Linked DNA regions of Homo sapiens: region 2 is linked to region 1. The links come from fine-mapping of genetic effects on gene expression. A gene starts in region 1. The other region holds a variant in brackets. All regions are shown on one strand. Distances are between the middles of the regions. Region 1 holds the start of AP5Z1 (adaptor related protein complex 5 subunit zeta 1). Region 2 overlaps RADIL (Rap associating with DIL domain).

The links. PIP is the estimated chance that this variant, and not a neighbour inherited with it, causes the effect.
Region 2: its variant is the best candidate, but not a certain one, in a credible set for the expression of AP5Z1 in subcutaneous fat (TwinsUK, PIP 0.66).

What each region holds. Positions count from the first base shown.
Region 1 is chr7:4,773,599-4,777,980 of GRCh38, reverse strand. It overlaps AP5Z1 (adaptor related protein complex 5 subunit zeta 1), which reads right to left and starts at 2,358. Exons shown (of 17, transcript NM_014855.3): 1 at 2,225-2,358. The coding sequence starts at 2,265. RefSeq lists enhancers at 1,680-1,789, 1,810-1,869, 2,210-2,279, 2,710-2,799, 2,840-2,889 and 2 more and a silencer at 2,400-2,529.
Region 2 is chr7:4,821,375-4,825,756 of GRCh38, reverse strand. RADIL (Rap associating with DIL domain) reads left to right here. Exons shown (of 15, transcript NM_018059.5): 6 at 3,203-3,363. Among named protein-coding and RNA genes, the nearest start is that of SNORD165, 14 kb to the left of the region's middle. The variant AG/G (reference allele first, on the strand shown) is at 2,425.

The sequences.
Region 1 (4,382 bases):
TCCCGAAGTGTTCGGATTACAGGCGTGGGCCAGTCACTGCGCCTGGCCGGCTCCAAACCTTAACCCTCAAACTACAGTCATTTATTTTAAAATATCATCAGAAATCACAGGCTTAAGAATATTGTGAAAACTGGTAAGCCCTAATAGATTAACCTTCTTGAAACCCTAACAGAGGGCAACTGCAGAACTCATGTATGTTACATAGGGAAATTCAACCACACTCTATCCTCAAAAACGGCTGCCCACCCGAGCCAGGGAGGCAGAGAAACAGGTATTTAAATAGTGAGGGCTCAGCCGGGTATGGTGGCTCACACCTGTAATCCCGGCACTTCGAGGGGCCGAGTCAGGCGGATCACCTGAGGTCAGGAATTCGAGACCAGCCTGGACAATGTGGTGAAATCCCATCTCTACTAAAGATACAAAAAATCAGCCGGGTGTGGTGGCGGGCGCCTGTAATCCCAGCTACTTGGGAGGCTGAGGCAGGAGAATTGCTTGAACCCAGGAGGCGGAGGTTGCAGTGAACTGAGATTGCGCCATTGTACTCCAGCCTGGGCGACAGAGGGAGACTCTGTCTCAAAAGAGACTCTAATAAAAATAAATAAATAAATAAATAAATAAATAAATAAAGAGGGCTCTTCCTTTTGTTTTTCATGTCACAAGTTTATGACCTTGAGCAGAATGTGACTGGGAATGAAGTTCTCAGTGGGTGTTTTTCCTTGTCTCTTGGCAAGGACCTTGGGATTAACATGTTACATGCTGAGATGCCAGTATTTTTCATTTTCATATAGTCCCCACATTCACATGAATGACATATCTGTCCAGGATTGAAGGGAAGGTTGCCTATGTTGAGCTGCTGGGAGATGGTGCTGCATATTCACCAAGCCTCTTCCTAATGAGTGGACTCTTAAGGGTTATTTTGATCAGAGATTTTTGTCCTGTTCGGGCTTTAGAACTTAACCTGCCTTCAAGACCTCACTCACTATAATCACAGCAATTTCAACCACCCGAATCTTTCCCACCAATTGGTCTAGCTCTGAGTCCAGGTTTGCTTGTTTGTTTTGACATGGAGTCTCGTTCTGTCACCCAGACTGGAGTCCAGTGGTGCGATCTTGGCTCACTGCACCCTCGGCCTCCTGGGTTCATGCACTTCTCCTGCTTCGGCCTCTCACCTCACCAAGTTTGTTTACGTTTACCAAGGGGCTGTAGTGCTGGCTGTATTTTCTTTACTTTTTTTCTTTTTTCTTTTGAGACGGAGTTTCGCTCTGTCCCCCAGCCTGGAGTGCAGTGGCGCCATCTCAGCTCACTGTAACCTCCACCTCACAGGTTCAAGCAATCCTCCTGCCTCAGCCTCCCGAGTAGCTGGGATTACAGTCACCCACCACCACGCCCGGCTAATTTTTTTTTTTTTTTTTTTTTTTGTATTTTCAGTAGAGACGTGGTTTCCTCATGTTGGGCACGCTGGTCTCGAACTCCTGACCTCAGGTGATCCGCCTGCCTTGGCCTCCCAAAGTGGTGGGATTACAGGCGTGAGCCACCACGCCCGGTCAGCATTTTCTTCTTTTAAACATGTAGTATGAAGTCTTTGCCTGTTTGGTGGACCGTGAGTCTGTTCAGTCCTGGCTTACACTGTTTTCCCCCATGACTGGTTAGTTGGTGAGGAAGGAGCTACTCACTCGTTACTGGGAGTCCAGACACAGCCTGAAACCAGCCTGGAGGGTGATTTCTCAGCCTAGCTAATACATCCGCGCAAGAGAGATCTTTTTAAGTCACAAAACCCTCCCACGGTTCCGCAAAGCCCTCGGATGGCCTCCAGCTCCCCAGCCTGGCACACAGCCTTATTCCTTAGCAGGCCTCCGGACACTGTGACTTTGCGTTCTTGACTGTGAGGCACTGAAATCTCCCGGCTGCCCGATTTCCTGCCAGACGCGGAGTTCTCACCGCCAAGCCTTTGACTAAACTGTCGACTGGGTCCCACCCCACTTGCTTTCACTCACCAAGACTCTGCTCAAGTGTCACCTCCTCCGGGGACCCACCATGACCCTCCCCGACCTCCTCACCCCAAGCCTGGCCGCCGTGTTGCCTTACCCGATCCCCAAGTCTCGAGGGCGAGTCCAGTCGGGTTCCTGCAAGGCTGGCGCCCAAGCCCCTGCCCTGTGAGACCCACCCCCGTGTGCCCCTAGGGAGAGATGCAGGAAGGAGGGCCGGGGCCGCAGCTCCCCCGTACCTGGCCTGGTGGAGCAAACTCTCCGCTCCTGCCGAGAACATCACGCCGCCGCCACCAGACGCGCACGAACCTCGGAAACTCCAGGAGCTGCAGCCCAGGAGCTCCGCACCCCGGTCAACTTCCGGGACCGCGTCACGTGAGCGCAGCGGCCTTACGTGGCTGCGTCACGTGCCGCATCACATGAGCAGGAGGGACAGGTTGCCGACCAATGGGCTTTGGCGTGGAGCGACTGGGGCGGGGCGTAGGTGCCGCGGCCGGGGGTCCGGGTCGGCGCCTGGGAGCTGCGGAATCGCGCGACCCCGGAACCTCGGCACTCTGGAGCCCCGGCGCCCTTCGACCCCGGAAAGCATTTCGGCGGAAATTGGGCGCCTGGGGCTTTGGGAGAGGGCATTGCTGGCCCCAAAGTGTCACTGCCCCAGTTCTGGTTTCTGTTTCGTAAACAGCTTTGTCGTGCGGGAGTCCCTTTGCTAAGTACGACCTGAAAATCTGATGCAAACTCCGACACTTGTGGGCTGAGCCCAGCAGTGTCCAGCAGTTTGCAAGGAATAGCCGCGGCTCTGGGCAGTTTTGGGGATTTTTTGAGCTCCCATTTATTGAGCACCCATCCCGCGCTGTTCCTGCTGCTTGAAACGAAAAAATCCCTTATTCAATCCCCACGGTATTCATGGGATCTCGCGATCTCTGTTTTACAGATGAGGCCACAGGCTCGGAGAGGGGAAGTTTCTGTTCATTCTAACGGATGTGTTGGGTGCCCAAATGTGCTGGGCCCTGGCCATAAGTTTGCCATCCTGCAGACGGCCGAGGGACACAGGGCGACACGCCAGCGTCATGATAAACGCTATGACAGCCTGACCTGGTTGGGGGTCCAACCGGAGGAGGAAGGCTTCGGCGACTGCGGCCTAAGATGAGCCCAGAGGGTGTCCAGACCAAGGGGTGGGGAGGGACGGGCCTAGGGTAGCGATCTGCTTCCTATGGCTTAAATGCACCCCAGGAGGAAACTGATCTCTGGCCGCAGGGGAGATAATGGATTGGGAAGCTCCTGAGGGAGAAAGGAGGCTGGTGCAGTTGTGGTCCAGGTAAGGGAGGTTGCCCCGAAAGTAGGCAGATTCAGTACCATTTAGAGGTAGGATTTGCACCACCTGTGATTGAGGAATTTGCAGGCAGGAGGAAGAAAGTGGAAAAATCAAGGGTAACTTCATGTTTGTGGGGTGTCTGTCTGGGGCAGAAAAGGACGAGGAAATTTGTGCCAAGAGTCATTCATTAAGTGGACAAGCGATGATTGAGTCCTAGCTGCGCTAGGCACTGCTGAAGGTTCTGGGGAATAGGGTAGGGGTGGGAATCAATGTTGCGTAGATAGGGTGGGTCAAGGTTAGGCCTTGAAGGGATAAGCCCCGAGAAGACCCCTGGATGGAAGGAAGGAGGAGGAGGAGGGAGGGCTTCCTGCAGGAGTTCCAAACATGGCTTTGAGATGCCCTAGGGCGCCCAGTGATGTCTGAGGGCACCTGGTGCAGAGAATGAAGAGATGGGAATCGGTGGATGGTGAGCGGTGGATGGGAGTCGGTGGAGTGCGGCGGGTGCCCCTGGAGCCGCAGGTTGAAGACTGGCAAAGGAAAGCTGGTGACAGGTAGTCTATGGAAAGCCTACTGCCAGTGTTTAACGTTTACTAGGGTAAAACGTCCACACCAAAGCGCACAAATCTTAAATGAACTCCACTATTTACATTTCTAGAAATCGGTGGTAAATTTGCAAATGTCTTAAGCCTCGGCTCCATTGGCGACGGTGGGGAGCCGGGGGTTGATTTGTGTTTGATAATTTCTGTGGTGTAAATGTTCCTGCCATGGTTTGAGTTCAAGACCTAGACCATTTCCAGCTCCCCAGAGGTTCCCCGCTGTGGCCCCCTCCCAGTCAACGCCCACTCCCTTCCCCCACAAGTAACTGCTAGTCTCTCTTATCACCAGAGATTAGTTTTGCGTCTTTTTATACTTCATGCAAATGGAATCGTACCGTACTTAGCTTTTCTTGTTCGTCCATGAATATTTGGTCGGTTTCCAGATTTTGACAATAACGAATAGAGCTGCAGTGCACAATTGTATGTCTTCTGGGGTTCTGAGAGATGCACCCCTCTTTGTTGTATAGATACCAGGTTCACAGGGAAGCT
Region 2 (4,382 bases), 48 kb before region 1:
TAACAGGAACATGCCACCACGCCCAGCTAATTTTTGTATTTTTAATAGAGACGGGGTTTCACCATGTTGGTCAGGCTGGTCTTGAACTCCTGACCTTTGTAATCTGCCCACCTCGCCCTCCCAAAGTGCTGGGATTACAGGCGTGAGCCACCGCACCCGGCTTTTTTCTTTCTCTCTCTCTTTCCTTTTTTCTTTCTTTCTTCCTTTCTTCCTGGGTGTGATGGCGCTGGCTGAGCTGTCTGTGGTTTGCTTTCTCACTCACAACCTCTCCAGGTGGGTGGATGTGGCTGACCCATTTTTTGGGGCACGCCATTCCCTGGTCCTCTCCTGATGGACGCGACAGGCATGCATAGGCTGTGGCCGGCAGCCCATGCTCTGGTCTCTGTGCTCCTTGTGGGCCCTGCGAGTGTTTCCATCGCCTTGGTTCCCAGGAGTGGGACTCCAGTGCTTCCCTCCACCCGCAGGAGATACCCGCGCCTTGACCAGCCTGCCTCAGCCAGCTGCGCCCGTTCCTCCTGCCGGGCCGTGCTGCCCCTGCTGAGTGCCCTTCCCCTCTGCCCTCTTCTAGAACTGCCCCAGCCAGCTACGCCTGTTCCTCCTGCCAGGCTGTGCTGTCCCCCCCCGAGTGCCCTTCCCCTCTGCCCTCTTCTAGAACAACATGGGTTTTCCTTTTCCACCAGACCTGCTCCTCCGTCCACACAGGCCTGGGTAGGATGGGCTGGATCTTCATCATTCCCTGGGCCCCCACTCACATGGCCCCAGGTTGGCAGGTGGGGGCGCGTTCAGTGCCAACCTGGCCCGAGTCTGATCCCGAAACTCCAGTTGCAAAGCCTGGTCACTTGTTTCCTGGGACAGGCCTGTCTACCCTCCGGGTTCCGGTGAAATTGAGAAGGGCAGCAAATTTTGAAAACAAGATGGAATTAGTCTCCGAAGAGCCCAGCGAATCCTTCTTTAACTGTATAAAAAGCTCCTTCTGCCCATCTGCAGACATGCGTGTCCTTCAAGCCAGTGTCCAGAATGGGCAAAAAGGAGCAGGACTTTGAGCTGTGCCAGACACATGAGCAGGCAGCGGACCTGCTTAGCCGCCAAAAACAGGAGAGATGGTCTCAGTCCAGTTTCTTCCCTCCCCGGGTGTGTGCACGCGAGAGAGGTCAACATTGTTTGTGGACAAAAGTGAAGTGACGTCAGAGAGAGCAGGCAACACTTTGGGTACCGGGGAGAATCTGGGACGCAGCCTGGGGTTCCTCCCCCAGCCCTGCTCGGCTGCCCAGCTGGGGAAAGAACAGGGAGGAAAACAGGGCCTCAGCCCTTCCCAGATGCCCTCACAAACCGGCTGCCTTAAGGTCCTGGTGGCATTTCCTGTGGGCTTGGCACCTTTCAAAGGACCCCAGGCCGGGTCCACACACCTGGGACTGAGCACGCGATGGTCACTCTGACGGCCGTCCAGCCTTGAGCCTGGCTCTGCCCCGGGACTGGGGTCAGGCACTGGGCTGGCACCATGCCCTGCGGCCAGCAGAGTGGCAGCTGCCTGGCTCACCCCTTAGAATCCCCCCAGTAAGGGACACAGGTGACAAGGGGTACCCGGGCCAGCCATGGGGCAGGCAGCAGGGCCGCCCTCCACACCCCAGGCAGACCCAAGTCAGATCTGTGTGATTTGATCTGTTTGCAAAAGGATCCCTTCTGCTCACTGCTCAGGGGCACACACGGCCTTCTGCTCACTGCTCAGGGGCACACGGCTATTTGTGTCCGCCAGGTGCGATTATGGAGACTTAGGGATGAATGCATCCTCTGAGCTGCCAGGACCCTGGGGCGTCCCAGGCATCTTGTCCAGTGGCTTAATGCTGAGCTGGTGCATGGACCAGATGAGCAACCTGTGAGAAAGATGTGTGGCTGGCATTTTAAATGAGGAATTACCCGGGCACCTCAGCACAGCCTTGCCACGTCCACCCCTCAGACGTTCCAAGAGGCTGCTGAGGACACTAGAAGGCAGTGTCAAGTCACACCAGACAGACACATCCTGCGGCTGGTGCCAGAGATGTGGGAGAAAGGGTTTGGGAGCTCTGAGCTTGGAAGCCAGCCTGACGGTGGAGGCTGCCGCTGAGGGAGGAGGCAGCCCTGATGATGCCGTCATCCCCTGAAAAGGGAGCACTGAGCCGGAAGGCAGCAGGCCTGGGAGGGAAGGGCGCCCCCCCAACCCCTACCTGCATTGGGCTGGCCAGGCAGGGGCCTGAGCTACTTCTGCTTTTGTTACTCAGAGTAACAATGAACCCCATGGATACAGAATCAGGGCTAGGCATGGTGGCTCATGCCTATAATCCCAGCACTTTAGGAGGCCAAAGCAAGAGGATTGCTTAAGGCTAGGAGTTCAAGAGCAGCCTGGGCAACATAGCAAGACCCTGTCTCTAAAAAAAAAAAAAAAAAAAA[AG/G]GTTTTTAATAATTAGCCAGACTAATGTTTGTATTTTTAGTAGAGACGGCGTTTTGCCATGTTGGCCAGGCTGGTCTCGAACTCCTGACCTCAGGTGATCCACCCGCCTTGGCCTTCCAAAGTGCTGAGATTACAGGCGTGAGCCACCACGCCTGGCCTCAGTTTGGGTTTCTAACGATTGCCTCTGAGTCTTCAAATCTCATGCTTTGCCTGCTACCCCGCGATTCATGGACTTTACACGTGATTTTCTGACTTCCTGCTTTAATAAAGTAGCATTTCATTTTGCCTTTGTGCACCTCCCAAAATAGCTCTATTATTGTTTATTTCCTTTGGTAATTACCTTGTTAACTTAAATAATATAATGGAACTGACATTTCTTGTTCTGAAAACCATGGACCAGCCCCCACCCCCATGCACGCATACACGCACACACACACATATTGGCACACATTCTCTCAGCATTCACAGCCACTTTATGATCTCATTCCAAAAGAGAAGACATGCAAGCCATCTACTTACCGAGGTTTTTTACCAATGGCTGTGGCGCCCAGCTGTCTTCCTGCTAGGTTTGTAGGGTCCTCTGGCTGTCGGGTGTTGTAGGCAGGTGCCAGGCGGGTACACGTATTGTTAAACGTCCCCGCCCAGCAGTGTCAGGTTGATGGTTGCAGTTGTTGTCAGCGTCCCATGAAAACGCGCATCCTTATGTAGAAAGAGTGGTAGATTCAGCCTCCTGAGGGTCGGGTCCCCGCGTAACTCTTAGTCTTTCTGTCTTGGTAGCCAGGAGCCCATCTCGCTGGCCAGCTGCGCCATGGCTGATCTGGTTCCAGACTTGCAGCCCATTCTTTTCTGGATGTCTAACTCCATCGAGCTCCTGTACTTTATCCAGCAGAAATGCCCACTCTACATGCAGAGCATGGAGGAGCAGCTGGACATCACAGGTACGGCTGGCGCTGCCCTCCATTCCCCCCGCCAGCACCCCAGGCAGGGGAGTGTGGCATCTCCTCGCCGTCCTCGGAACCTAGTTGGCCATGATAGCAGGGGTGGATTCATGCCGGGGGCTTCCTCAGTCCCTAGGCTGCCATGTGTCAGTTGCTCGGGGACGGCCTGTGAGGCTGGTGCTGGTGGCACGGGCCAGTCTGGCACCTCCCCCCACAGCACCTTGGCACTCAGTCTGTCCCCATCATCCCGTGTGCTCCGTGCGGTGGCGTCCCCTTGACCGCAGCCCCACTCTTCTGCTTGCAGGAGGGCCCGGGGGGTACACAGATCACTCAGTAGGGGAGACACAGATGCCACCGTGAACCAAATGTAAGGGGCGGTAGAGAGAGCGTCGGCCATGAGACCGCCGCCCGTTCTGAGACACACCGTTATTCCAGAAGGACAGATGTTGCCAGTCATTGTTGTGAAATTGTAGATTATGTCGGTTTCACAGATTAAGATGTGGGAAATACACATTTCGGGATTTCTTTTTCTTTTTTTGAGACGGAGTCTCGCTCTGTCACCCAGGCTGGAGTGCAATGGTGCGATCTTGGCTCACTGCAAGCTCCGTCTCCCAGGTTCAAGCGATTCTCGTGCCTCAGCCTCCCGAGTACCTGGGATTACAGGAGCATGCCACCTCGCCCGGCTAGTTTTTGTATTTTTGGTAGAGATGGGGTTTCACCATGTTTGCCAGGCTGGTCTCAAACTCCTGATCCGCCCCACCTCAGCCTCCCAAAGTGCTGGGATTACAGGCATGAGCCACCGTGCCTGGCCACCATTTCAGGATTTCTGAAATGCAGTAGGAAGTGTTCTGAAAATACTAAGGGAGAGGGATTCCATCGGGGCAGTCTAGGGGGCTTCGAGAGGAAGGTGGCATGGGGCCGGGCCCGGAAGCCGGGGTAGGATTTCGGCTCATGTGTCTGCTAAGGACTGTGTGGGGCCTGGAATGGAGCCAGACGGGGCAGCAGGACTGTGCTGCTGT